7 linked regions of the Homo sapiens genome follow. The protein of the gene in region 7 purifies or fractionates together with the protein of the main gene of each other region. This does not show direct contact. Each region holds a gene or a part of one and is shown on either strand. Other genes may lie near its edges.

Region 1 (3,500 bases), on a different chromosome or scaffold from region 7:
TCTTGGTATAATTATGTACTGCATATAAAACACTACAGCACAGAGTTTGCTAGCTCCCTTGTTAGAAATTCAATTGTAAACTTTCAGCGCATGAGAAAGTTTACTGCTTTTATGGATAACCGCAATAAAATCCACAGAGATTAGTGAACATTCCAAGACATGCACTTCAATAACTCAAAAAGCTGAAAGTGAAAATATGTGCATGCATCACTGGTGTAAGTCGGTCAGTTTGGCACCTGATTTGCTATTTATATATGAGATGTGTCTTGCCAACCATCTCTGTCCCAATTTCCTTGTGGTTTAGGAGCTTTAGGCCCACCTGCCAGCTTTGCCATTATAATCTAAAGTAGTTGATACATAAGTATATACAAAGTTTAACACTGAAATTTTCTAAAACCTGTAAATGAGAATCATTCAAGCAGCCAGGAATTTTCATAAACAAAAATCTAAGTTCCCAACTTAAAAAAAAAAGCGCCACAAACCTCACCTTACTTTATCTAAAATAAATAGGTTTTAGCTTTTTTTTTTTTTTTCTTTTTGAGACGGAGTCTTGCTCTGTTGCCCAGGCTAGAGAGTGCAGTGGCGCGATCTTGGCTCAATGCAACCTCTGCCTCCTGGGTTCAAGCAATTCTCCTGCCTCAGCCTCCTGAGTAACTGGGATTACAGGTGCCCATCACCATGCCCGGCTAAGTTTTTACTTTTAGTAGAGACGGGGTTTCACCACGTTGGCCAGGCTGGTCTCAAACTCCTGCATGATCCACCCGCCTCAGCCTCCCAAAGTGTTGGGATTATAGGTGTGAGCCACTGCGCTCGGCTGGAAAACATCTTAATTACCATCTGCAAACCTGAACTGGGCAGTGGCTCATGCCTGTAATCCTAGCACTTTGGGAGGCCAAGGTTTGAGGCCAGGAGTTTGAGACCAGCCTGGGCAACAAAGTGAGACCTAGTCTACAAAAACTAAAAATATATATATATATAAAATATATATATAACATTTGATAATATATATATGATATATGTATCATATATACGATACATATATCATACATATATCATATATAATATATATCATACATATATGTATGATATATATATCATGTATATGTATGATATGAGATATATATGATATATATGAGATATGTATGATATATACATATGTATGATATATACATATGATATGTGTGATATATACATATCAGATATATATGATATATATCTCAGCCAACCATGACAGCACCTGCCTACAGTCCCAGCTATTCGGGATGTTAAGGCAGAAGAATCACTGGAACTCAGGATTTTGAGGCTGTGGTGAGCTGATTATGATTGTGCCACTGTCCTCCAGCCTGGGTGATAGAGTAAGACCTTATCACAACAACAACAAAAAAGATACCTAAACCTGAAATTCTCAGAATAACATGTTACCAATTGAGAGTAATTTCAGACTGAATTAAAGGCATTAAGCATAATTTTAGAACCTAAGTGCACATTGATTTTAAAAAGTAACTAAAAGCTGGGTGTGGTGGCTCATGCCTGTAATCCCAGCACTTTGGGAGGCCAAGGCGGACAGATCACGAGGTCAAGAGATCGAGACCATCCTGGCCAACATGGTGAAACCCCGTCTCTACTAAAAATACAAAAAAAAATTAGGTGGGCATGGTGGCATGCGCCTGTAGTCCCAGCTACTCGGGAGGCTGATGCAGCAGAATTGCTTGAACCTGGGAGGTGGCGGTTGCAGTAAGCTGAGATCACACCACTGCACTCCAGCCTGGTGACAGAGCAAGACTCCATCTCAAAGAAAAAAAAGAAACAAACACTAAAACAAGTAGTTCCCAAACTTTAGTGGGCACCATAATCAAAAGTGCTCATTAAAACAGACTGCTAGGCCTCTTCCAGCATTTCTGATATTGGTGGGTCTGGAGTGACATCTGAGAATCTGTATTTCTTCTTTTTTTTTTTTTTTTGAGATGGAGTCTTGCTCTGTCGCCCAGGCTGGAGTACAGTGGTGCCATCTCTACTCACTGCAGGCTCCACCTCCCAGGTTCATGCCATGCTCCTGCCTCAGCCTCCCGAGTAGCTGGGACTACAGGCATCTGCCACCACGCCCAGCTAATTTTTTGTTTTTTTTAGTAGAGACGGGATTTCACCATGTTAGCCAGGATGGTCTCAACCTCCTGACCTCGTGATCCTCCTGCCTTGGCCTCCCAAAGTGCTGGGATTACAGGCGTGAGCCACCGCGCCTGGCCTCCAAGAATCTGTATTTCTTATTTATTTTTAGTTTTTTAAAAGATGGAGTGTCACTCTGTCAACCAGGCTGGAGTGCCATGATGTGATCACAGCTCACTGCAGCCTTCAACTCCTGGGCTCAAGTGATCCTCCCACCTCAGCCTCCTGCGTAGCTGGGACTACAGGTGTGAGCCACCATACCTGGCTGAGAACTGTCATTCTAACAAGTTCTCAGGTGATGTTGATACTATTTTGGGACCATACTTTGAGAACTAGTGAAATAGACATTCCAACAAAGATTAATCCAGTCCGTACTACACTATCCAATGCTTAAAGCTTGATGTGCAATTCCTTTTCTAGAATATATACTATACAAATTTAGGTTCATTATACTATACACTATATACACAAACTGGTTAATACAGTTGGATGGGTTCTTTAGATACATACTTCACATAGAGTGCAAAGACTGGGGGAACAGATCAACCAACAACTTCCCCTACCATAAGATAAAGCAGACTTCCTAGTTTAAAGCCAAAATTCAAACTGCCTTTGTGACCAAGGGTGGTGGTTATTGTCTTGCTTGAATAATTGACATTCAAAGTTCCTAACACAGTTGGAATTTCTGCGTTCCTTATGCTGCAGTCTACTTAGCTTCTTCCGTCCCTGCTATTTTTGGTTTCCCCTTTTATTCTTAGCCACATTCTAATTTCTAGAATAAGTATTTTCTTAGGTTTCTATTTAAGAACTCAAACATATTCTTCCATTGAAAATCACCTAATAAGCTGACAGAGAAACCCGTTAATCTGGTACATAAACATCTAGTTTCTGCTTATTTTCAATGACTTGAAACTAAATATCCAGTTCCATTTTTGGTCATCTCTTGCTATCATAGTTCTTCCAATAAATTTGTTATAATTACCACCAACTGGTCCTTACTGTACTTAAAAGCTGAAATGTCTTTCCACTGATTTCTACTTAGGACTTACTCCACCTTTAATATGACATATGACTTTTACCTAATGGATGTATACTGTCCCTCTAGCAAATTAAAATTTTCTATTAAGTACTTATAAATAGTCATTGCTTATTAATTACTTCTAGAATTTTGTGGGGAAATGTATTTAATTAAGTTTGCCAGAAAATACCTTTTGGAAAAATAATTATGATTTCAGGTTTACTTCTATATATAGAACAGTCTACCACAATTCTTCAAAAAAAAAAAAAAAAGGGTAGAAATATGATTTTAAACACCTTTAACATCTTTTAGTATCTCA
Region 2 (3,500 bases), on a different chromosome or scaffold from region 7:
TGACTAATTCCTCTAGCAGAAAGAAAGTGTTCTACAGCAGAGCCTACATGCCACCTGGAGGTCTTGTTAAAATGTAGATTCTGACCCAGGCAAATATGCATCCCTCACAAGCTCGCATTGGTGCCCTGTGGATTACTCCAGCAGCACTGCCCAAGAGAAATCCAATGCGAGCCACACAGGGCATTGAAGACGTTCTGGTACTTTTTTTTTCTTTTGAGACAGAATCTCGCTCTATCCCCCAGGCTAGAGTGTATGGCGTGATCTTGGCTCACTGCAATCTCCACCTCCTGGGTTCAAGCGATTCTCCTGCATCAGGCTCCCCAGCAACTGGGACTACAGCAGCCTGCCACCACGCCCGGCTAGTTTTTTTATTTTTAGTAAAGATGGGGTTTCACCATGTTGGCCAGGCTGGTCTTGAACTCCTGATCTCAGGTGATCTGCCCACCTCGGCCTCCCAAAATGCTGGGATTACAGGCATGAGCCACCATGCCCAGACAGGTACTATATTGATGTTAAGCATAAAATTAGGGTAATTTAACTGGCTCAGGAGGAGTATCTAGCTCATTTGTTTCAGTTTGGACAATGCTAAATGCTATTTTAGGGGTTCTATGCCCAACTGGAAACTGGCAAACAGGATGGATGTGGGGGGAAGGAATAAAGATAATAAAATGCGCAGTTTAATAAATGTAAGAACTGAACCAAGTAATCTTGCAGATACTGAAACCAGCCATCTGGTGAAACCTATACCTGTAACAAGGGCAATCTTTGGTGGAGGCAAAAGAACAGATGGTGTCAAGGAAGATGTTGCAGAGAAACCAACAAGATATTTCTAGCAAAGGACCCAGCAGTGTTCCCTGCTGCACTGCAGTGTGCGCTATCAACAGGTCATACTTCCTTCTTGAAAGCTGCCCTGGCTCCCTACATATCCACCCTACACTGGATCAGGCAAAGACAAGATGAAAACAAGAGGCTTGGAGTCTACAGACTTTTGGTGATGATAACGTGTTCACGCATGTTGACCACTCTAGTGGGGATGCTGACAATGGGGGGGCTGCGCATGTGCAGAGGCAGTGGGTACTCATGGGTTTATGTACCTCTGCACCTTCCGCCTGCTTCTGCTGTGAACCTAAAACTGCTCTAAAAAAGTTGATGAGACAGGGAGAGAGAGAGATGAAAGGTTCTGAGCAAGTCCATCATTTCATGTTTTTTGAAAAGGATTAAGACACACAAGAGAAAGTTCCATTCATTTCAATTTCAAAATGTCCAACTCCCAACAATCTTCTAGCATCTGGGGTCTTTTGTTGCTTAAAGTTCATTAATATCCAAGTAGAAAGTTCCACCCATTGACTAAGCAAACCACTCTTACTGGATGAAGGGAATTCTTGGCATCCTGTGAGAACCCTCAGGGTTCCCCATAAAGCCAGTGAGAAACCCCACAGTGCTTGAGAGCCCACACAGCAAGCAGCCAACTCAGGCATTCTTTTGCCCAACGAAGTCAGGCCTCAAGGATCCTTTCTTCCTGAGGGGGAGGGGAGGTGCAAGGGGAAGGGAAGGGCTGGGGTTCCACTGCTAGGCCTGTGACTCACAGATGGTGACTCAGCTCCGACTGGCAGTTCTCTGTGAGTTTAGCACCGCTGAGTGATTCTGCCTGAAGCTCCTTTGCCAACCTCACCCACTCTGTCCATCGCGCCATGTGCTGGAGGTAACACAGAGCTACAAAGGCACTGGATTTTCTTCTTAAAGGAAGGAGTTTCACAATTCTCTAATTTTTCATAAGAAAACTCCTCCTATAGGGATTGACAGCCAGGTAAAAATGAGAGCCTCCAGACTATTCCAAAGCCTACAGGTAAAAACTGTCCTTGATCCTTGCTGAAGACTGATTTCTAGTCACAGAGATAAAGGTGCTATATTCACACCTGCTATCCCTCCCCTTATCAAGAGATACCATCCTATCACACTGTATCCTGCATTTGGTCACAGCAAGCTGTCAGCCAACAACTAGTGATGGGCCCCTTTAGGGACAAGGTCTTGTGGTATCACCTTACTTCCTTACTTCACTGACTTAGGAGCCAACTTATGTGGTTTTAAGCCAAGGAGCTGGCAGGATCAGGCGGGGTGGCTCACACCTATAATGCCGGCACTTTGGGAGGCAGAGGCGGGCAGATCACCTGAGTGAGGTCAGGAGTTCGAGACCAGCCTGACCAATATGGTGAAACCCCCGTCTCTCCCAAAAATGCAAAAATTAGCCAGGTGTGGTGGTGCACACCTGTAGTCCCAGCTACTTGGGAGGCTGAGACAGAAGAATTGCTTGAACCTGGGAGGCAGAGGTTGCAGTAAGCTGAAATCATGCCACTGCACTCCAGCCTGGGTGACAGAGCAAGACTCCATCTCAAAAAAAAAAAAAAAAAAAAAAAGAAAAAGAAAAAGAAAAAAATAAGCCGAGAAACAGCAAGACACTGGCTCCATGCCTAAAAATTCCCCAACCCTCACAGTCAGGAATCACAACCTACTAGCATGTGCAGACAGAAAGAAAAGCTTTAACAGATTTTTTTTTTCCTAAGGCTCCAGCATTTGTAGAAAATTTTTAAAATGAAGCACGGTGGAAGGAACCATGGAAACCAAGGAGGTGGCACATACCTTTTGAGGTGAAGAGATCAACCTCAACAGTGGGATTCCCGCGAGAGTCAAAGATCTCCCTGGCATGGATCTTGAGAATAGACATGGTGAACTTCTGTAGAAGAAACACACAGTTCATGTTTTCCATAAGCCATAATGCTGCATTTCCTCACTCATTCAAGGAATCACTTCCGAGGTTCGTGGACTAGAGAGAATCAGCACTGGACTAAATACTGGATGTAGGAAAGCTGGCTAGGGTGGGGGGAAAAGCCTGCTGGAAAGCAGTGAGAATTCTCCTAATTAAGTAGTTAGGGCCTAGCTGCGGAAGGCCTTAACCTTTTTATGCCTAGTATTCCATTACTGGAACGCTAAGGGCGTGGGAGTTACTTTTATCCGACTGCTCAAGTCATTGCCAAGGTCTGATTTTTCACAAAAAAAGATTTGCAACCTCTGGCATAAATGGGTTAAACCCTAGCAATTGAGGTCTTGTTCTGTAAGAAAAAAGAAAAAAAAAAAAAGAGAGAGAAAAAGCCCACAAACGTGTGTGCCCAGGGAGAATCAAATCCAAATAGAAAGATGAATGTGTTGCTCGACGCAGAGTGGCCCAGGAGCTGTCTGAAACTGGCTATTGTCATGAGTGAACAATGAGGGCTGGCATGGGAATGGAAAGGAACCAAGAACAGACATGAAGGTCACAAGCAAAACCACCTAGGGCCAAAAAGAGGGTGGCGGGACCAGGGGAAAACCTTGCTTGTAGCAGAATTAAAACAAAATAGTGAATGAAGTTTGGACATAATTCTTCAGATTAATATTCACTTAGTAGGTATTTGATCAGAAATTCTGAGTTTGGAAGTCAGGAACAATGAAGTCCTTGGACCGTGTGA
Region 3 (3,500 bases), on a different chromosome or scaffold from region 7:
AGCAGCTCCTTGAGAGGACCCTGCTGACTCTCCTTTCAGTCCTATTTTTAGAGCAGTGGGCCTTCTGTTCAGTGAAATCTCACAGAGGAACCAGCCTGGGCTCAGGATGTGCAAAAGCCCCATACGAGGCTCACAGAAGGGACTGCATTTGCTTGGGGTAACCCAATAGGACAGTGTTACTGGGAATCAGACTCAGGCCTCTGGGGACACCGTGAAGAATCTGGTCCCAGGCCTACTGCAGGGCACAACACATGGGGGAAGCCTCCAAAAGTCACTAGCTATGTGAACATACATGATTCTACAGGCCTATGGACTTGACATGGTTATGCCAAGTAAAACCTGCTATAAAACAATATTGTGAAGAAGCCTGTTTTTTTTTGTTTGTTTGTTTTTTGTTTTGAGATAAGCTGGCATGTAGTGGTGTGGTGATCACAGCTTACTGAAGCCTCCACCTCCTGGGCTCAAGTGATTCTCCCACCTCAGCCTCCCGAGTAGCTGGAACTACAGGTGCATGCCACCATGCCCGGCTATTTTTAAAGTGCTTCTGTAGAGGTCTCGCTTTGTTGCCCAGGCTGATCTCAAACTCCTGGCCTCAAGCAATCCTCTCACCTTGGCCTCCAAAAGTGCTGGGATTACAGGCATGAACCTCCAAGCCTGGCCCAGAAGCCTGATATGTTAAAAAACTAAGATAGGCTGCTGCCTCTGAGATGACCTCTGAGGCACTGGGGGAGATGACCCAGGGCTGTCGGGAGCACTGGCCAAACCAACAGAGAGAGACTGCAGGCCTCCAAGCTGACTGGTGAGAGAGGGAAAGTGATGTTAGAAAGATGATCTGGTTTCAGTGTGTGTGATCACTGCAGGGAGAAGAAAGAAATGGCAGAAACATACAGATGGAGGCCAGGCAAAAGGGAAGGAAATGGAAACACAGAACAGAGATGGCTACAAGCAATACCGAGAAGGATGACCTGTCCTCACATGGACGCAGGGAATTAAGAAGGTGGACGGGCTCAAGGAGCCACTGAGGTTGAGCCCAGGGAACTGGCAGGATGGTCACAGGACACACAGAGCAGGGGGACTGACAGGGGAGCTCCGGGAGAGTGGCAGGTGTGGAGGAGGAGATAGGACAGCTGGACCTGAGCCATGCTGGGGGAGATGTTTCAGAGGCAGCTGAATCAGGAGTTAACTGCTGCCAGGGTGGAGAATTGGATGAGGGTTCCCAAAGCAACAATGACAGGGATGTGGGGACAGAAGAGATCTCTAAATAAAAGAACAGGGGGAAATTCTTTTGTTGTAAAAGCCAACTCCATCTACTCACCATGCAGGTATGGTGAGACAAGTCAGTCATCTCAGATCAACCCACCCAGCATCCAGGTCCTATCCACCAATCTGAGAACAGGGCACAGGGAGGCTGCCAGGGCCCTGTCACATGGGGTGGCACCTCCACATGCCCCCGAACAGGTTGGTTTTCCTGTGACTTGAGTTGTTTTTTTTTAATTGCGTCAAACCTGCTCTCATGGGAAGAAAGGTCAGAATGATGAACTTAGCATAGCATTTTGTTTCACTTTTAAGAAATGTGGGAAGAGGTGACTGTCAACTCCTATCAGGCCTCTGCCTGATAGCTCAAAGGCACCTGCAGGCCCAGTCCCGTGTAACTGCACCCACACCACTGAGAATAATCATCCAAAACATAAGTCACACTGTCAAAGCCTCAGAAAACTTTTTGAATTCTGCAGGAAAACAAGTACTTAAAGTTCAATAACAGGTTGGGTACAGAGGCTCACACCTGTAATCCCAGAACTTTGGGAAGCCAAGGTGGGAGTATCACCTGAGGCCAGGAGCTTGAGACCAGCCTGGGCAACATAACAAGGCCCCATTCCTATAAAAAAATATATATATATATAATATCAGCTAGGCACAATGGCACGCATCTTTAGTCCCAGCTACTCAGAAGGCTGAGGCGGGAGGACCACTTGAGCCTAGGAGGTGGAGGCTACAGTGAACTATGATCATGCCATTGCATTACAGCCTGGGTAACAGAGTGAGACCCTGTCTTTAAAAAAAAAAAAAAAATAGGCCAGGCGCAGTGGCTCACACCTGTAATCGCAACACTTTGGAAGGCTGAGGTGGATCACTTGAGGCCAGGGGTTCAAGACTAGCCTAAGCAACAAAGCAAGCCTCTATCTCTATAAAAATAATTTAAAAATTAGCCAGGTGTAGTGGCACATGCCTATAGGTCCTAGCTATTTGGGAGGCTGAGGCAGAAGGATTGCTGGAGCCCAGGAGGTTGAGGCTGCAGTGAGCTGTGATCGTGCCACTGCACTCCAGCCTGGGCAAGAGAGAGAGAGCTTGTCTCCAATAAATTGAATGAGTGGATGGATGGATGGGTGGATGGATGGATGGATGGATGGATGGATGGATGCATGCATGGATGGATGGATGGATGGATGGATGCCTGCCACCATGGATGGATGCATGCATGGATGGATGGATAGATGGATGGATGGATGGATGGATGGATGGATGGATGGATGGATGCATGCATGCATGGATGGATGGATGGATGCGTGCATGCATGGATGGATGGATGGATGGACAGACAAATAGATAGATAAAGTTCAGTAACAAAACACATAAGTTTTCAAGAGACTGAAGTGGCCCAGTGAGGGGACAGGCAGGAAGGGCCCTGGCAGCAATGCTGGTGGATGCTCCCCATTGCCAGACCCCAGAGCACACAGGACGTCCACATGCAGCCTCGGGTCAGCCTACCTGCTTATGTGCAGGATGCTTTCAATGACAGGGAGACTCAGACAGTGGGGAAACAACCAGCAATAGAGAAGAGGGCAAAGGCAGAGGCCTGGGGTGTCTAGAGCGGCTCTGCTTGAGCTCCAGGAACAACTCCAGAGTCTTCCCCACTTCATGGCCTTCGTCACTGCTTGGTCTCCTCACATTCCTGACCCATCTTCAAGCCAATGCTAGTGCCCGGCAGGCATCATGGGCATCTCAGGGAACCCCACCTGGGTGTGGGTCTGCCTTGCTAGATGAGACATGCCTCACCTGAAGCTGGCAGGCAGCCACCAGTGTCTCTTGTACATTGCTCAGGCTGAGCTCCAGCTCGGAGGTGTATATGAAATGTAGGATTTGGCACATAGCATTGTAGGACACACCGTGGATCAGGACCTCTTCCTGTTCCATCTCCTTCAATCCCCCAGCAAACATTCCTCTGCAAAGTGAAGACACAAGAAAATGGAGTTATACCAACAGGGACTTAAGCCCATGTTGCCAAGAGTGACAGCATTCAGAGAAGAACCTGGCGCTGGTGGCAGGGCCCTGGTAGTGGGCTGACCCACTCTGTGCTCTGAGTGAACTGTGTGCATGCATGAGCCATCCCACAAAAGGATCCTGACGAAGTCTGGGCAGCCATCCTGGAAATTGTCCTGTTTCCCTTTTCATGGGCCCAAGGAGTCCCATGTGAGCTTCGGGAGGTGAGGCCACAAGCAGCT
Region 4 (3,500 bases), on a different chromosome or scaffold from region 7:
AAACACCCCCTCCTCCGCCCGCAAACACCCCCTCCTCCGCCCGCAAACACGACCCCTGATCAGGCAGCAAGCTCAGCAAGCTCAGCCGATGGCTCCTGCCCGCCCGAGGCTTGGGCCAGAGGGGCCGGCACTCAACTGTCTTCACCCCCATACAGGAAAAAACATGCATCTGATTCCACCAATGGAGCAGCAAGCAAACCGGATGGTGGCTGGCGCTTGGTGGGGCCCAGGGGTGGTTTCTGGGTCCCCCCTTGTCACCCTCACTCAACTGTGTCCAAAACCTGAGCCTCACAGGCCCCCAACCACGCGCCATGGCGGAGGCCAACACAGCGGGACCTAAACACCCCAAGCTGCTATGTGGGGGCCGGACACCAGTGCAGATGCCTTTTCTCTTGTGAGCTTTTGCATCCAGGTGAAAACGCCTCAGGAAGGCCGAAGCCACTGGATGCAGCCACACCTGCATCTGTCACTCCACTTTCTTTGTGCACAAGCAGCCAGGACAGCTCTGGGGACTGGGGGGCGGCGTCTGTGGAGGACAGCCCTGCACATTTTTACTATCTGAACTTTTAGTATGTGCATGAACAGGCACTATCCCATTCGAAGAACTTTTCAAAATGTAAACTCTACCTTAGCCCACCCTGCATTTCCTTCTCTAGGCAGGCATTTCTTCTACAGATCCACCTGCACAGGGACACAAGGACAAGGTGGAAGGACCCTCCTGGACGCTGTCTATGCAGCATCTGCCAGTGGGGACAGGCGGGATCCTGTTGCTCAGTCCCGCCTGTTCAACAGGGCATTAAGAGGCAGAGGCCAGGCCGGGCGCGGTGGCTCACACCTGTCACCCTAGCACTTTGGGAGGCCAAGGCGGGCGGATTACGAGGTCAGGAGTTTGAGACCAGCCTGGCCAATATGGTGAAACCCCATCTCTACTAAAAATACAAAAAAAAAAAAAAATTAGGCTGGGTGTGGTGGCTCACGCCTGTAATCCCAGTACTTTGGGAGGCCGAGGCGGGTGGATCACAAGGTCAGGAGATAGAGACCATCCTGGCTAACACGGTGAAACCCCGTCTCTACTAAAAATACAAAAAAATAGCTGGGAGTGGCAGCGTGTGCCTGTAGTCCCAGCTACTTGGGAGCCTGAGGCAGGAGAATTGCTTGAACCCAGGAGGCAAAGGTTGCAGCGGGCCAAGATCACGTCACTGCACTCCAGCCTGGGTAACAGAGCAGGACTATGTCTCAAAACAAACAAACAAGCAGACGCCAGGCATCAGGCCTGTGAGTGCCACAGGCCGCAGAGAAGCGTCTTTGGCAGCAGGTCCAGGTGAGCAGCCGAGGGCACAAGCCACGCCGCTTTCCAAGGCATCAAGCAGGTATAAAATCACTGCTGGGATATGCACTGCATTTGGTCTCATGCAAACAAGATCTGTCCAACATTTGCTAAAAGTTAAGGGCTTTTTTTTTTTGAGACGGAGTCTCACTCTGTTACCTAGGCTAGAGTGCAGTGGTGCAATCTTGGCTCACTGCAACCTCCACCTCCCAGGGTCAAGCAATTCTCCTGTCTCAGCCTCCTTAGTAGCTGGGATTACAGGTGCCTGCCACTGCACCCGGCTAATTTTTGTACTTTTAGTAGTGACGAGGTTTCGCCCTGTTGGCCAGGCTGGTCTCGAACTCCTGACCTCAGGTGATCCACCTGCCTCGGCCTCCCAAAGTGTTGGGATTACAGGCGTGAGCCACCGTGCCTGGCCAAGGTAAGGACATTTTTTTTTTTTTTGAGACGGAGTCTCGCTCTGTCGCCCAGGCTGGAGTGCAGTGGTGCGATCTCAGCTCACTGCAAGCTCCGCCTCCAGGGTTCACACCATTCTCCTGCCTCAGCTTCCCGAGTAGCTGGGACTACAGGCGCCCACCACTGCACCTGGCTAATTTTTGTACTTTTAGTAGAGACAGGGTTTTGCCGGGTTGGCCAGGCTGGTCTCGAATTCCTGACCTCAGGTAATCCACCTGCCTCGGCCTCCCAAAGTGCTGGGATTACAGGCGTGAGCCACCGCGCCCGGCCAAGGTAAGGACATTTTGAAAAGCTTGTCTTCTGTCCAAGTTCAGCTGACAGTTACTGGTAATAATGTGTGATTCAGGGGTGATGGTCTCGGACATGGGCCCCAGGAGGCCCAGTGCCCCAAGCACTTTCAAGAAAGCTGACCAAGGGGGTCGGCGGAGGACCTGCACCCAGTCACATAACCAAGGCGCCAGCAGATATGCACCTGGCCACATAACCACGAGGGTCCACAGAGGATCTGAACCCACCACATACCCAGCGGGGTCAGAGTGCGGTCCTTCTCCAGGGAGCCATCCACGTGGTACTGGGAATGCCTGATGAGGAAGATGTGCCGCGTGGCCTTGGCTTTGTAGTGGTCCAGCTTGGACGCCAGCTCTTCTTCCCCAGATTCCACGTTCCTCTTCCGCACGTTGATCAGAGACAGTGGTTCTCGCCTGATGTTGAAATACAAGATATGTCCTTGAGACCTCTGTTCCCAAGTTTGAGTTTTTCTGACAAGATGTTATTTCCAAATTGTCAGACTATTTGGGAAGAGCATGGAGAGAAGACAAGGCCCTTGGCACAGCCCTGGGGAGGCCTCTCTGAGCATACCGCCACTCTCCCTCCCACAAAGCTAGTGCCAGGTCTGTTCTGAGTGATGCGCTGGAGAGCAAAACAGACAAGCAAAGCCCTGTGCATCTTCTTCTCTAATGAGAGGCAGACAGTGAACAGCAGGAGACAGACTACCCCAAACGCAACTGTGGTTACGGAGAACGCCAGGCTAGGAAAGAGGACAGCGGCTATCGGGGCGCAGGCGGAAAGTGTCCACGGGGCCAAGATGGGCCTCCCTGACCATGATGCTTCAGCAGAGCCTAGAACTGCAATGCCCAACAGCAGCCACTAGCTATGAGGATGTTTCAATTCAAAATTTAAGCAAAATTAAATAAAATTAAAACATCATGTCCTCAGTCATACTAAGCACATTTTAGACCCTCAGGCCGGGTGCAGTGGCTCACACGTGTAATCCCAGCATTTGGGAGGCTGAGGTGGCCAGATCAACTGAGGTCAAGAGTTCGACACTAGCCTGGCCAACATGGTGAAATTGCACCTCTACTCAAAATACAAAAATTAGCCGGGCTTGGTGGCACACGCCTGTGATCCCAGCTACTTGGGAGGCTGAGGCAGGAGAATCGCTTGAACCTGGGAGGCGGAGGTTGCAGAGAGCCGAGATCGTGCCACTGCACTCCAGTCTGGGCGACAGAGTGAGACTCCGCCTCAGAAAATAAATAAATAAACAAACACTCAGTGAGGAAGAAAACATTCCCATTATGAAGGTCTGTTCCAGAGCTGCTGGAATCTGAAAAAGAGTGGATCCCAGCACTTTGGGAGGCCGAGGTGGGCAGATCACTGGAGCCCAGGAGTCCAAGACTAGCCTGGGCAACACAGGGGGACCCCGTCTCTACAAAAACAT
Region 5 (3,500 bases), 3.8 Mb from region 7:
TAATTTCTCTGTTATATGAAGAACCAGTAAAAGGACAGTTTTATAGCTCTTCTGAGTGGAACAGACCAGGCTCAAATCATGCGCTTGACTGACTCATTGCCATGGTTTACACAGGTCCTTCAACTGCCAGCTTTAAGTCAGATGCCTGCTCACAGGGACTCATCCAACAGTAGGTTGGCTTTAGAAAAGCGTTCTGTACCTCTGAGAAACAGGACCTCGATGAAGTCTTCACTGATGTCAATCAAGAATCCTTTCTGGGGGATTCACACTGTGTTCACTACACAAGGGCATAAGCACAGGCAGGAAACCAAGACTCAGGCCTGGGTACAAATCCTGACCTCCACCTGCCAGCTGTATGACTTCAAGTAAGTGATTTAACCATTCTCAAGTGTTCCCATTTGTAAAATGGGAATAATACCCCCATCTTACAAGGCTCCAAAGGGATTCAATGAGTGAACAGGGTCTCACTCTGTTGCCCAGGCTGGAGTGCAGTGGCACGATCATAATCATTGCTCACTATAGCCTCAAACTCCTGGGCTAAGTGATCCTCCTGTCTCAGCCTCCCAAGTGGCTAGGACTACAGGTGCACATGACCATACCTGGCCAATTTTTTAATTTTTGGAGAGACGGGGTCTCACTATATTGCCCAAGCTGGTCTTTAATTCCTGGGCTCAAGTGATCCTCCTGCCTTCACCTCCCAAAGTGTTGGGATTACAGTCATGAACCACCACGCCCAGCCCCAATATTTAACGAATGCTCGTCCCTTCTGTTACCCCGAGTGGGATTGGAAGGTTGGTGAAAGGCTGCCTTATATGGAGCAGGCCTCATGGGGGTATTACACACAGGGAGAAGAAAGAAGCTCATGGGAGGGAAAGTATGGAAACTGACAGTGGCAGCTTCTGCCTCTTCTATTCTTGAGAAAGTTACACAATGTGAGTGACAGAGGCTGTCCCAAGTACATAAAGGACTAATCTGTTTGCAAAGGGAGGAAATAGCATAGGATGAAGATTGTAAGTTGTTTGAAGCTTCTTTCCTAATTACCACTCATAATGAAAATTTAATTGCCAAGTTAAAAGCAAATTTCACTTTTTCTGTCATAGAATCTCTGCAGAAACTGGCACATTTTGTTTGAACAGGAAATCAAAGTTATTTTAATGCTTAAATGAGATCTAAGGAGCTGCAGATGTTTCACTGGGAATAACAAACTTCAAAATTCTGCTTTACTGGGTTGTAGCAATTCATGGCTACAGGGAGAAAGAAACGCTGTTTTAAGCTGAGTAAACCAAAGCAGTGGGAGGAATTCAAATCCAAGTACCCCAGTGTTAGGCACTCTGGGGACGAGGTGTAGGGAGAGGGTGGTACAGAGAGAAAATTTCTGGCATAGAGGCACTTACAATTGAGTAAGAGAGAGAAAAGCAGGAAATATCCCAAGACTAGGAAACTGAAATTTAAAAATTTTGGGGTCATGGAAGAATAGCGAGAAACAAAACACATACTGTTGCCTCAATTCTGACCCACATGTGCATCAGCTCAGTCAGAAAGACTGCTCACCTGTAAGGTGCTGGTGAGGAAGTTGTCTTGGGAGACAATGTCTACGAAGAAGTCAGCGGGGATCTCACCAAGCTGGTGGTACAGGATGGAGATGAGGTTGATGTAGAGGGTGTGGTGCTTCATCATGGCTGCTTCTGACCGGCACAGGAGGTTCAGGAGCCGCTTCCAATGCTCAAATGCCTCGTACACATTCCCCAGCAGGAAGCACACAAAAGCAAACTGGAGTTCACCTGAAAGGTGCAGAGAGGAGAAGTGATTCTGAGGGAGAGGAGGACCAGCTGACACTCTCCATCACTATTCACAAGGCCATGAATTCCACTGGACCTCAGCAACAGATGAGCTTTTATCCTTGTCACTCCTGCAGAGCCTGGCAGGAGATTTTGCACCTAACAGGTACTCAATAGATGTCTGCTGAACCGCTATGAATTCAAGCCATGGGAAACCAACCTGTGGCTTTGGATTTCTATAAAATCAGACTGCTAGAGAAGAGGTATTCCCAGTATTTGCCTGGCATTTTAAGTTTACAAAATGTGTTCATGGATATTATGCCAAGTGGATTTCAAACCTGGCTGCCCATCAGAATCACTGAGAGTCTGTTAAAAGTAAAGCTACCCAAGCTTCACCCTCAGAGGTTCTGGTGGAGGAGAGATGATGGGGCCTTCGTATCTGTAGCTCTAACAAGCTCCCCAGGTGATTCTAATGTGGATGGTCTGCTCCAGGGTCAGGAAATACTGCACTATACCATGTAACCCTCAGCCCAACTCCACAAGGCGATCAGGAAGATGGTATTTGCCTCATTTCATAGATAAGGTCAAGGGCTTGCCCAAGGCCACACATCTAATGCTTCACAATGTGGGCAACGGAAAGATAAAACAGATTCTCCATTGGGTGGGAACAGTTCTGGAACCTCCCACAAAAGAAAAATTCATGAGTACTTATTCCAGGGTCAGCCTGCCAGGCAGATTATTTTTGTTTGCTTAACCACAGGGCTCTGTGATTTAATCTCTATGAGCAGCTTGGTGGCTAAGAGCATGGGCTCTGGAGCCAAACTGCCTAGCTTCAAATCTTAGCTCTGCCACTTAGCAGCTGTGTGACCTTGGGCAAGTTACTCAATCTATTAAGGCCTCAATTTCCTTATTTGAGGGTTGTAGCAAAGATTACATGAATGGATATAGTACATGTATAGCATTTAGAATAAGACCTGGCACAAAGTAGCACTCAAAAAATATTATGTTCCCAATTTCTATCAGATGCCCATCTCAAACAGAGACCTGATGATCCAGACACCACTGTCCCTGGGCAAGTAACTGGGTCTCTGGTTACCACAGAATACTGCTCCTCATCACAGGCATTCTCTCTACTTCAAAGGTGGCTGGAAATTTAATGAGGTATACATACATGTGGGCCATAAAAAGAAGAGATGTACTCAACACCAAATACCTCTTTAAATGCATGGCGTTTGATCTGTGCCACCTCCAGAGACCTGGAAAAACTAGCTCCCTGTTCCTAAGCATACGGAACTAAGTTTGATTTGTGTGAATAGCTACCTGGTTTAGAAATTTTGGATTTCTGACCAATATTTTCAAATATAGTCAAATTTTCTTTGTATAATATAGGTTAATGATTTGCTTCTTCAGCTGGCTTTACTTGGTTTGTGAAACTAAATATTAGCCTATTATTTGCGTTTAGGACATTTATTAAATTTGTGCATTTCTGACTTTATCTAAAATTAAATTATATTTTTCAAAGAGGTGTGATGTAGATTCAAAATTATCCCTGGACAGGTGCGGTGGCAGGGATAGTCCTAGCCCTTTGAGAGGTCAGTGGAGGAGGATTGCTTGAGTTCAGGAGTTTGAGACAAGCTTGGGCAACACAGGGAGACCCTATCTCAACCAAAAATAATTAGCTGGGCGTGGTGGCACACACCTGAAGTCCCACCTACTTGGGAG
Region 6 (3,500 bases), on a different chromosome or scaffold from region 7:
AACTCTAGCTTAAAAAAATCTTTTCTTTTTGATGTAGAGAAATAAATACTATTAAGTAGCAAGGTAGGTAGCAATGGCTATTGCTCTCTTTTAGAATCTGGCTGATTACTAGCTCTCTGCCAATGTCAACCTGCTGTTACCCTTTGATAGATCGATTTTCTGAATAGATTAAGTCTGATAGACTATTTATTGTGAAAATTATGTCAATTCTTGTGCTGTTTTAAACGAGGCGTTATCTAATTTTTGAACGTTCTTTGCTGCTTTTGATGACCCACCATCAGGCTAATGGTCTGATTATTACATTTTACTTTAGGGAAGGAACAGATTCTCCTAAAAATCAGTGTCTTAGGTTAGTGGTCCTGTGAGATTTTCTAATGGCAAAAGTGGGCCAGGCACAGTCACTCATGCCTGTAATCCCAGCACTTTGAGAGGCCAAGGTGGGTGGATTGCTTGAGCCCAGGAGTTAGAGACTACTAGCCTGGGCAACATAGTATAGTACTTTGCTGGGAAAAAAAAAAAAAAAAAAAGCCAGGTATGGTGGTGAACTCCAAAACCTTGGATTTGGCAATAAAATGATGTCAAACCTTTCCCAGAACTTCACATGAAATTATTCTTTTTGTGTCTATTTTTAGAAATAAAGTGTTCACCTGACCAAGACCTCATATTCTTCAAGTTGCACTTTCCAAATACAAGATGGTAACTGTCTCTCAAATATTATTTACCTGCTCCTCAGTGATTTGCATGTACAGGATAATATAATAAATCAATTCAGGCAAGGCTTTCTTAACAGTGCTTTTGAATTTGCTATTTTCTAGTAGAGCATGGACAAATTCAAAAATGCTAAAGACGAGATTTTCAAAGCCCAGGACTTCACCTGCAGGAAATACAGAAGAGAAGAAATTAATGACAAGAAAGCAAAAGGAAAGCATATATGCAGAAAATGAACTACATAACCTTTGTAAATTACTGAATATTTAAAGTACTTGCTAATGATCATTCCTGAGGAATTGGGAGAGAGGGCTCAGAGGTCACAAAACGTAATTTTGAGGATATTAAATATTCTTTGGTTTTTCAAGTAAAAGAATCAGAAACACTGGATATATTTTCCAGTATGTCTATTGTTCTAATCTGAAATAATGAGAAATGTTAAAACAGAAACGAAAGATTCATGATCTGGGACCCCCAAATGAAACACAACAAAATGCCAGAAGTAGGCTAGATTAAATGGCCTTAAAAGTATCTCTTCCAATGCAGAAATTCTATGATTTTATGAGATTTATGCAACTACCTATGTGGAACAGATTAAAGATTGTCAATTCTCATTTCCCCACATCGAATACATCGAAAATAAACTGAATTAGAAAACACTTAATAGAGTGAAGCCTCTCAAGTTACTGTTTCCCGCCCCCATCTCTGGCTTCTTTTTCTTTTCCCACTAACTGGTATTTCTATAAAGATCAAATAAACTACATACCATCAGAATCCACAGGATCTTCTACTTCTTCTGTGTAATTTACTTCTGTCCTCACATAAGTATGATGAAGAGTAAAGAAATAGAATTTGGAGTCTGCTTTACATATAATCTACATGGAAATGTTACATATTCCAACACTAAAAGTAGACACCTTAAAAAAGCCTGTGTAAGAAGAGTGGAACCATATGAATGTGAAACCCAGTGCGAGATTCCTAACTATAGGTGGTAGTAGCTCCCTTAAACTTTCAAGAAAGGATATAAAGCTGCACTCTCGGTTAGGGTGTTCCAAACAATAGGCAGAATCTGCTGCATGGAGGACACCATGTGCTTTGGGAAGTTTTTCACTAGGGCTGTCACTGCCTAAGAAGTTAAGAGAAAAGGACCCAAGTTATGAGTGATATATAAGAAATAAATGATTTCAGACCAGCCCCTCAAACTCCAAATATTTCATTGGTAGTAAGTGTTTACCTTTAGGACCTCCATCTTAAACCCACTGTCAGATGTGGGGCCATCTGGTATCTGGAGGGCCTGAACAAAGGCCTCTGTGAACTGCTGTACCACGGGAAAGATCAGGACTTTGGCTGCACCCTGATAACAGAAACCAAAGTCAATACTGGACAAACCCCTAATCCATGGCTTCAACACATATATATCAAACACTGATATTTGAAAGGCACCTAAAGCTCTCTTCAGGCTCCAAGCCTGATCAGAAGAGAATAGCTATAAAGTCAATGAAGGTGTTACCTAAGATTTCATTTTTCCTTAACCAGCACTTGCAGTTCTTCATCAAAGCCCTCTTAAAAACTATTATGTAAGACCAACTTTCCTCCTAACTGCTTCTGAATCACAGGGATTGGTATTTTTCAGCTAGCTTTGCTTCACACAAGAGGGCCATAAAAGAGTAGGAAAGTTCTAAGGGATGACTACTATGAAAAGGATATAGGATAAGGTGTTTGAAGAAGTAAGACTCAAAAGAAGACTAAGCTTTTTACAAGTTGAAAATTCAATCAGGCCAGGTGTGGTGGCTCACACCTATAATCCTAGCACTTTGGGAGGCCAAGGTGGGAGGATCACTTGAGCCAAGGAGTTCAAGATGAGCCTGGGCAACATAGGGAGAGACCCCGTCTCTACAAATATAAATTCATTAGGCTGGGCATGGTGGCTCATGCCTGTAATCCCAGCACTTTGGGAGGCCGAGGTGGGTGGATCACGAGGTCAAGATATTGAGACCATCCTGGCCAACATGGTGAAACCCTGTCTCTACTGCAAAACAAAAATTAGCTGGGCATGATGGCGCGTGCCTGTAGTCCCAGCTACTCGGGAGGCTGAGGCAGAAGAATCACTTGAACCTGGGAGGCGGACGTTGCAGTGAGCTGAGATTGCACCACTGCACTCTAGCCTGGTGACAGAGCGAGACTCCATCTCTAAATAAATAAATAAATTCATTCGTTCACTCATTCATTCATTAGCCAGGAGTGGTAGCACATGCTGGTGATCTCACCTACTCGGGAGGCTGAGGTGAGAGGATTGCTTGAACCTGGGAGGTTGAGGCTGCAGTGAGCTATGATCATGCCACTGCATTCCAGCCTGGGTGACAGAGCAAGATCTTGTCTCAAAAAAAACCCAAATAAATAAAAAAAATACAAATATAGCTGAGTGTTGTGGTTCATGCTTATAACCCCAGCACTTTGGGAGGCTGAGGGGGGAAGACTGCTTGAGCCCAGAAGTTCAAGACCAGCCTGGGCAATACAGTGAGACCCTATCTCTACAAACATTTAAAAAAGAAAATCAGCCAAGTGTGGTGGTGCACACCACACCTGTAGTTCCTACTGGGGGTCAGGGGATCACTTAAGCCCAGGAGTTCAAGGCTGTAGTGAGCCATGATTGCACCACTGTAGTCCAGCCTGGGTGACAGAGCAAGACCCTGTCTGGAAAAATAACAACAATAATTTAATAAAAATGTTAAATCTATCTCTAATACTGGTTAGTGTGCTTTTTCGTGCTGCTATCATGAAATGACTCACTG
Region 7 (3,500 bases):
CTCAAGGAGCTCAAATAAGTAGGGGGGTCAATTAAACTGATTACAATACAAAGTACAGTACATAGGTGAACATGGAGAGCCGTGGCAGCCCAGAAGAGGGGCACCTAACTTCAATGAGTTGAGCGAAAGACGGCATGGAGGTGAATAACGATCAGGGAAGTAACACATCCAAAAGGATGTGTTGCTTAAGCTGGGTTTTAAAATAAATTAGCAACTAGACAGACAGGTTGGCAGTAGAGAGATTGTAGGAAGTTTCTAGATAGTGGGATGAGCAAATGTGAAAGAATATTCCAAACTCAGGGAAACTAGGGCTGTGGGGAACTCAATATGCAGGAAGCTAGAGAGGGCACGAGGGCAGATGGTAAGACCCATGTGGAGGGATCAAGAATTTGATTGTTCCGGAGTCACTGAAGAATATTAACTACAGGAATGATTTGAGTTTTCGGAATTTCATCTGGCAACCGCGGGAAGCCTAGAGGCAGGAAGAAGAGGTAGACACTATGAAAGATGTCCAACAAAAAATGCCAAAGATCTAAACCAAAGATTGTGGCTACAGGGCTAGAGTGTAGAGGAGAACTCCATCCCAAATTTCACCTCCTAAGAAAAGCTTCTTCCAATAGACTCACGACATGTAGACTCAGAATTAAACTCTACCCATTCCCAAGAAGAACTTGGGAGTTATCTCACACCTCAAAACTACAAAGAGTGTGGATGAGAATACTGGCAGTTGGAGACAAGAAGAAGATAAGTTGGGGCAGAGGAGGAGAATGTCTTCTTTGAATAAAAGTATGTGAAAAAGAGTTGATAAAGTCATGATTCTGCTAAAAAGGCACCATAAATTTAAAACAGGTGCCCACAACAATCTAACTCATCAATTTCATGAGTCTCTTGATCCACTACATTGAAGTTTCATCAATTTATTTTCATTAGTTTTAGCCAAAATCATGTATCTTAAATTAATAAAAAAGAGGCCAGGTGCAGTGGCTCACTCACACCTGTAATCCCAGCACTTTGGGAGGCTGAGGCAGGTGGATCACGAGGTCAGGAGATTGAGACCATCCTGGCCAACACGGTGAAACCCTGTTTCTACTAAAATACAAAAAATTAGCCAGGTGTGGTGGCACGCGCCTGTAGTACCAGCTACTCGGGAGGCTAAGGCAGGGGAATCACTTGAACCCAGGAGGTGGAGGATGCAGTGAGCTGAGATTACGCCACTGCACTCCAGCCTGGCGACAGAGCAAGACTCCATCTCAAAAAAAAAAAAAAAAAAAAAAAAGAAAGAAAAAAAAGAAAACAGTTTTCTACATCTTTACCTCTTTTCCTTACTGGCCATACATGGTCTTCAGAATCAAAAGCTAAATAATATTTTTAGTTATGCTTATTGACTGCCATGTTCTTGGTATAATAAAACAAATTTAATCTCTCTTCTCTCATGGGCAAACTAAGATAAAATACTCCTTAATGAATTAAGAAAGTCTATTACACTGGCAAAGTTACCCCAAATCTCCAGTTCTGACAAGAGTATGAGAAAATCATACATACACCCTTGATGAAAGTAAAAATGGCATAAAAAGGTTCACATGCTGCCAACGGAAAACTATTAGCCAAAACCTAAAAAATATATATGTATCTTTTATCCCAATACGAGATTTACACAGGACATGAAAAATATTGATTCTTACAAAGGAGAAAACAAATCAATTAAACTACATTAAAATTAAGACCTCCTATTCATCAAAAAACATTATTACCTACAGAGCTGAAAAAGATATCTGCAACTTACATAACCAATAAAGAACTTGTATTTAGACTACATTTATAAATCAGGCCGGGCATGGTGGCTTGCACCTGTAATCCCAGTACTTTGGGAGGCCAAGGCGGATGGATCACTTGAGGTCAGGGGTTCAAGACAAGCCTGGTCAACATGGTGAAACCCTGTCTCTACTAAAAATACAAAAATTAGCTGGGCGTGGTGGCGCACACCTGCAGTCCCAGCTACTTGGGAGGCTGAGGCAGGAGAATCACTTGAACGAAGGAGGCAGAGGTTAGTGAGCCAAGATTGTGCCACTGTACTCCAGCCTGGGTGACAGAGCCAGACTCCTTCTTGGGGGCGGGGAGAGAGGGGGAACAAATATAAATCAATGGGCAAAAGGCAACTCAGAAGAAAAATAAAAGATGTGAATTAGGCACTGCACAAGAGGATACTGAAGTAGCCAAAACATATAAAAGGGTATTTAATCTCACTAACAATAAGGAAAATGCAAAATAATGCAAATTAAAACCGCAATGAGATACTACCACATCCATCAGAATGGCTACAATTAAAGTTTGACAATATCAAGTAGTGTTAATTAGGAGTAGAACAAGTACACTGAAAACAGATCCAAGCATTTGAGAATACAATTTGGCCTTATCTGGTACAGTTGAAGATACAAACATCCTCTGACCCAGCAACGTCCCTCCTAGGCTTGGATTCCTTAGAGAAGTACATGCACATCTACACAAATCACAACCCACATGTTCATGATGCAGCATTTGAAATCTGGATTATAAACAATCAAAGTGGCTGCCAAAGGCAGAATCAAATTGTAGTACATTCAATAAATGGATGATTATACAGCAACAAAAAATGAATGAACTATAGCTACTAACGACATAGATGAATATTAAAAACAAAATAGTGAATGAAAGCCAGATACAAAATAATGCATAGTTGATGATTCCGTTTGTGAAAAGTTCAAAATAAGCTCAACTAAACTACAGCATTAGGAATGCAAAGACGGGTAGGTAATCTAAAGGAAAGCAAGAAAATAACTTTCATAAAGTCAAGACAGAAGTTACCTTCAGCTGGAAGAATGGGGCTGTGACTGGGAAGGGGCAGTGGGGGGTAGGGGAGGTGCGCCTGGCTGCTGGCCATATTTGATGTCGTGATCTAAGTGGCAGTTACAGGGTGTTCACTTTATAATAATTCCTTAAGCTGAACATTTGTGTCCTATGCATTCACTGTATTACATTCCCACAATTATAAAAGTTTAAAAACAAAAAATTTTAAGGTATTTCCTTCAAGGAACACTACCACAGATAGCCATTTAAAAGAAAGCTGTACAGCATTTAATGACAAGAGAAACGATGATACACAAGCTTAATTAGGCAATTAAATTCATACAGTATGATTCTATCATCTTTTTTAAAAAATGAAAATTTGAATGTGTTTGCATAGAAAAATGCAAGAGAAATTCTTACTAAGCTGTTGGCCACCACCATCTCTAGGTGGCAGTTTTTTTGTTTGTTTTTTGAGACAAGAGTCTCGCTCTGTCACCCAGGATGGAGTGCAGCGGCATGATCTCGGCTCACTGCAACCTCCTCCTCCTGGGTTCAAGCGATTTTCCTGCCTCAGCCTCCCGAGCAGCTGGGATTACAGGTGGCTGCCACCACGCCCAGCTAATTTTTGTAGTTTTAGTAGATATGGGGTTTCACCATGTTGGCCAGGATGGTCTTGA

What was found.
Region 1: the proteins of ASXL1 (region 7) and CCT8 purify together in Homo sapiens (affinity purification with mass spectrometry, with the first as the bait; 2 studies listed by BioGRID). This does not show direct contact.
Region 2: the proteins of ASXL1 (region 7) and ENO1 purify together in Homo sapiens (affinity purification with western blotting; 2 studies listed by BioGRID, with this or other methods). This does not show direct contact.
Region 3: the proteins of ASXL1 (region 7) and KLHL22 purify together in Homo sapiens (co-immunoprecipitation; one large-scale study listed by IntAct). This does not show direct contact.
Region 4: the proteins of ASXL1 (region 7) and PGAM5 purify together in Homo sapiens (affinity purification with mass spectrometry; one large-scale study listed by BioGRID and IntAct). This does not show direct contact.
Region 5: the proteins of ASXL1 (region 7) and AAR2 purify together in Homo sapiens (affinity purification with mass spectrometry, with the first as the bait; one large-scale study listed by BioGRID). This does not show direct contact.
Region 6: the proteins of ASXL1 (region 7) and IPO9 purify together in Homo sapiens (affinity purification with mass spectrometry, with the first as the bait; one large-scale study listed by BioGRID). This does not show direct contact.

What each region holds. Positions count from the first base shown.
Region 1 is NC_000021.9:29,056,649-29,060,148, forward strand, and holds part of CCT8 (T-complex protein 1 subunit theta), read right to left. Parts: intron 1-3,500. UniProt on the Homo sapiens protein: Component of the chaperonin-containing T-complex (TRiC), a molecular chaperone complex that assists the folding of actin, tubulin and other proteins upon ATP hydrolysis.
Region 2 is NC_000001.11:8,872,187-8,875,686, forward strand, and holds part of ENO1 (alpha-enolase), read right to left. Parts: intron 2,732-3,500; 5' UTR 2,723-2,731; coding exon 2,638-2,722; intron 1-2,637. UniProt on the Homo sapiens protein: Glycolytic enzyme the catalyzes the conversion of 2-phosphoglycerate to phosphoenolpyruvate. In addition to glycolysis, involved in various processes such as growth control, hypoxia tolerance and allergic responses.
Region 3 is NC_000022.11:20,468,296-20,471,795, forward strand, and holds part of KLHL22 (kelch-like protein 22), read right to left. Parts: intron 3,221-3,500; coding exon 3,055-3,220; intron 1-3,054. UniProt on the Homo sapiens protein: Substrate-specific adapter of a BCR (BTB-CUL3-RBX1) E3 ubiquitin ligase complex required for chromosome alignment and localization of PLK1 at kinetochores.
Region 4 is NC_000012.12:132,713,842-132,717,341, reverse strand, and holds part of PGAM5 (serine/threonine-protein phosphatase PGAM5, mitochondrial), read right to left. Parts: intron 2,485-3,500; coding exon 2,306-2,484; intron 1-2,305. UniProt on the Homo sapiens protein: Mitochondrial serine/threonine phosphatase that dephosphorylates various substrates and thus plays a role in different biological processes including cellular senescence or mitophagy. Modulates cellular senescence by regulating mitochondrial dynamics.
Region 5 is NC_000020.11:36,242,978-36,246,477, reverse strand, and holds part of AAR2 (protein AAR2 homolog), read right to left. Parts: intron 1,782-3,500; coding exon 1,552-1,781; intron 1-1,551. UniProt on the Homo sapiens protein: Component of the U5 snRNP complex that is required for spliceosome assembly and for pre-mRNA splicing.
Region 6 is NC_000001.11:201,853,157-201,856,656, reverse strand, and holds part of IPO9 (importin-9), read right to left. Parts: intron 2,063-3,500; coding exon 1,943-2,062; intron 1,835-1,942; coding exon 1,734-1,834; intron 1,534-1,733; coding exon 1,475-1,533; intron 875-1,474; coding exon 723-874; intron 1-722. UniProt on the Homo sapiens protein: Nuclear transport receptor that mediates nuclear import of proteins, such as histones, proteasome and actin. Serves as receptor for nuclear localization signals (NLS) in cargo substrates.
Region 7 is NC_000020.11:32,424,331-32,427,830, reverse strand, and holds part of ASXL1 (polycomb group protein ASXL1), read right to left. Parts: intron 1-3,500.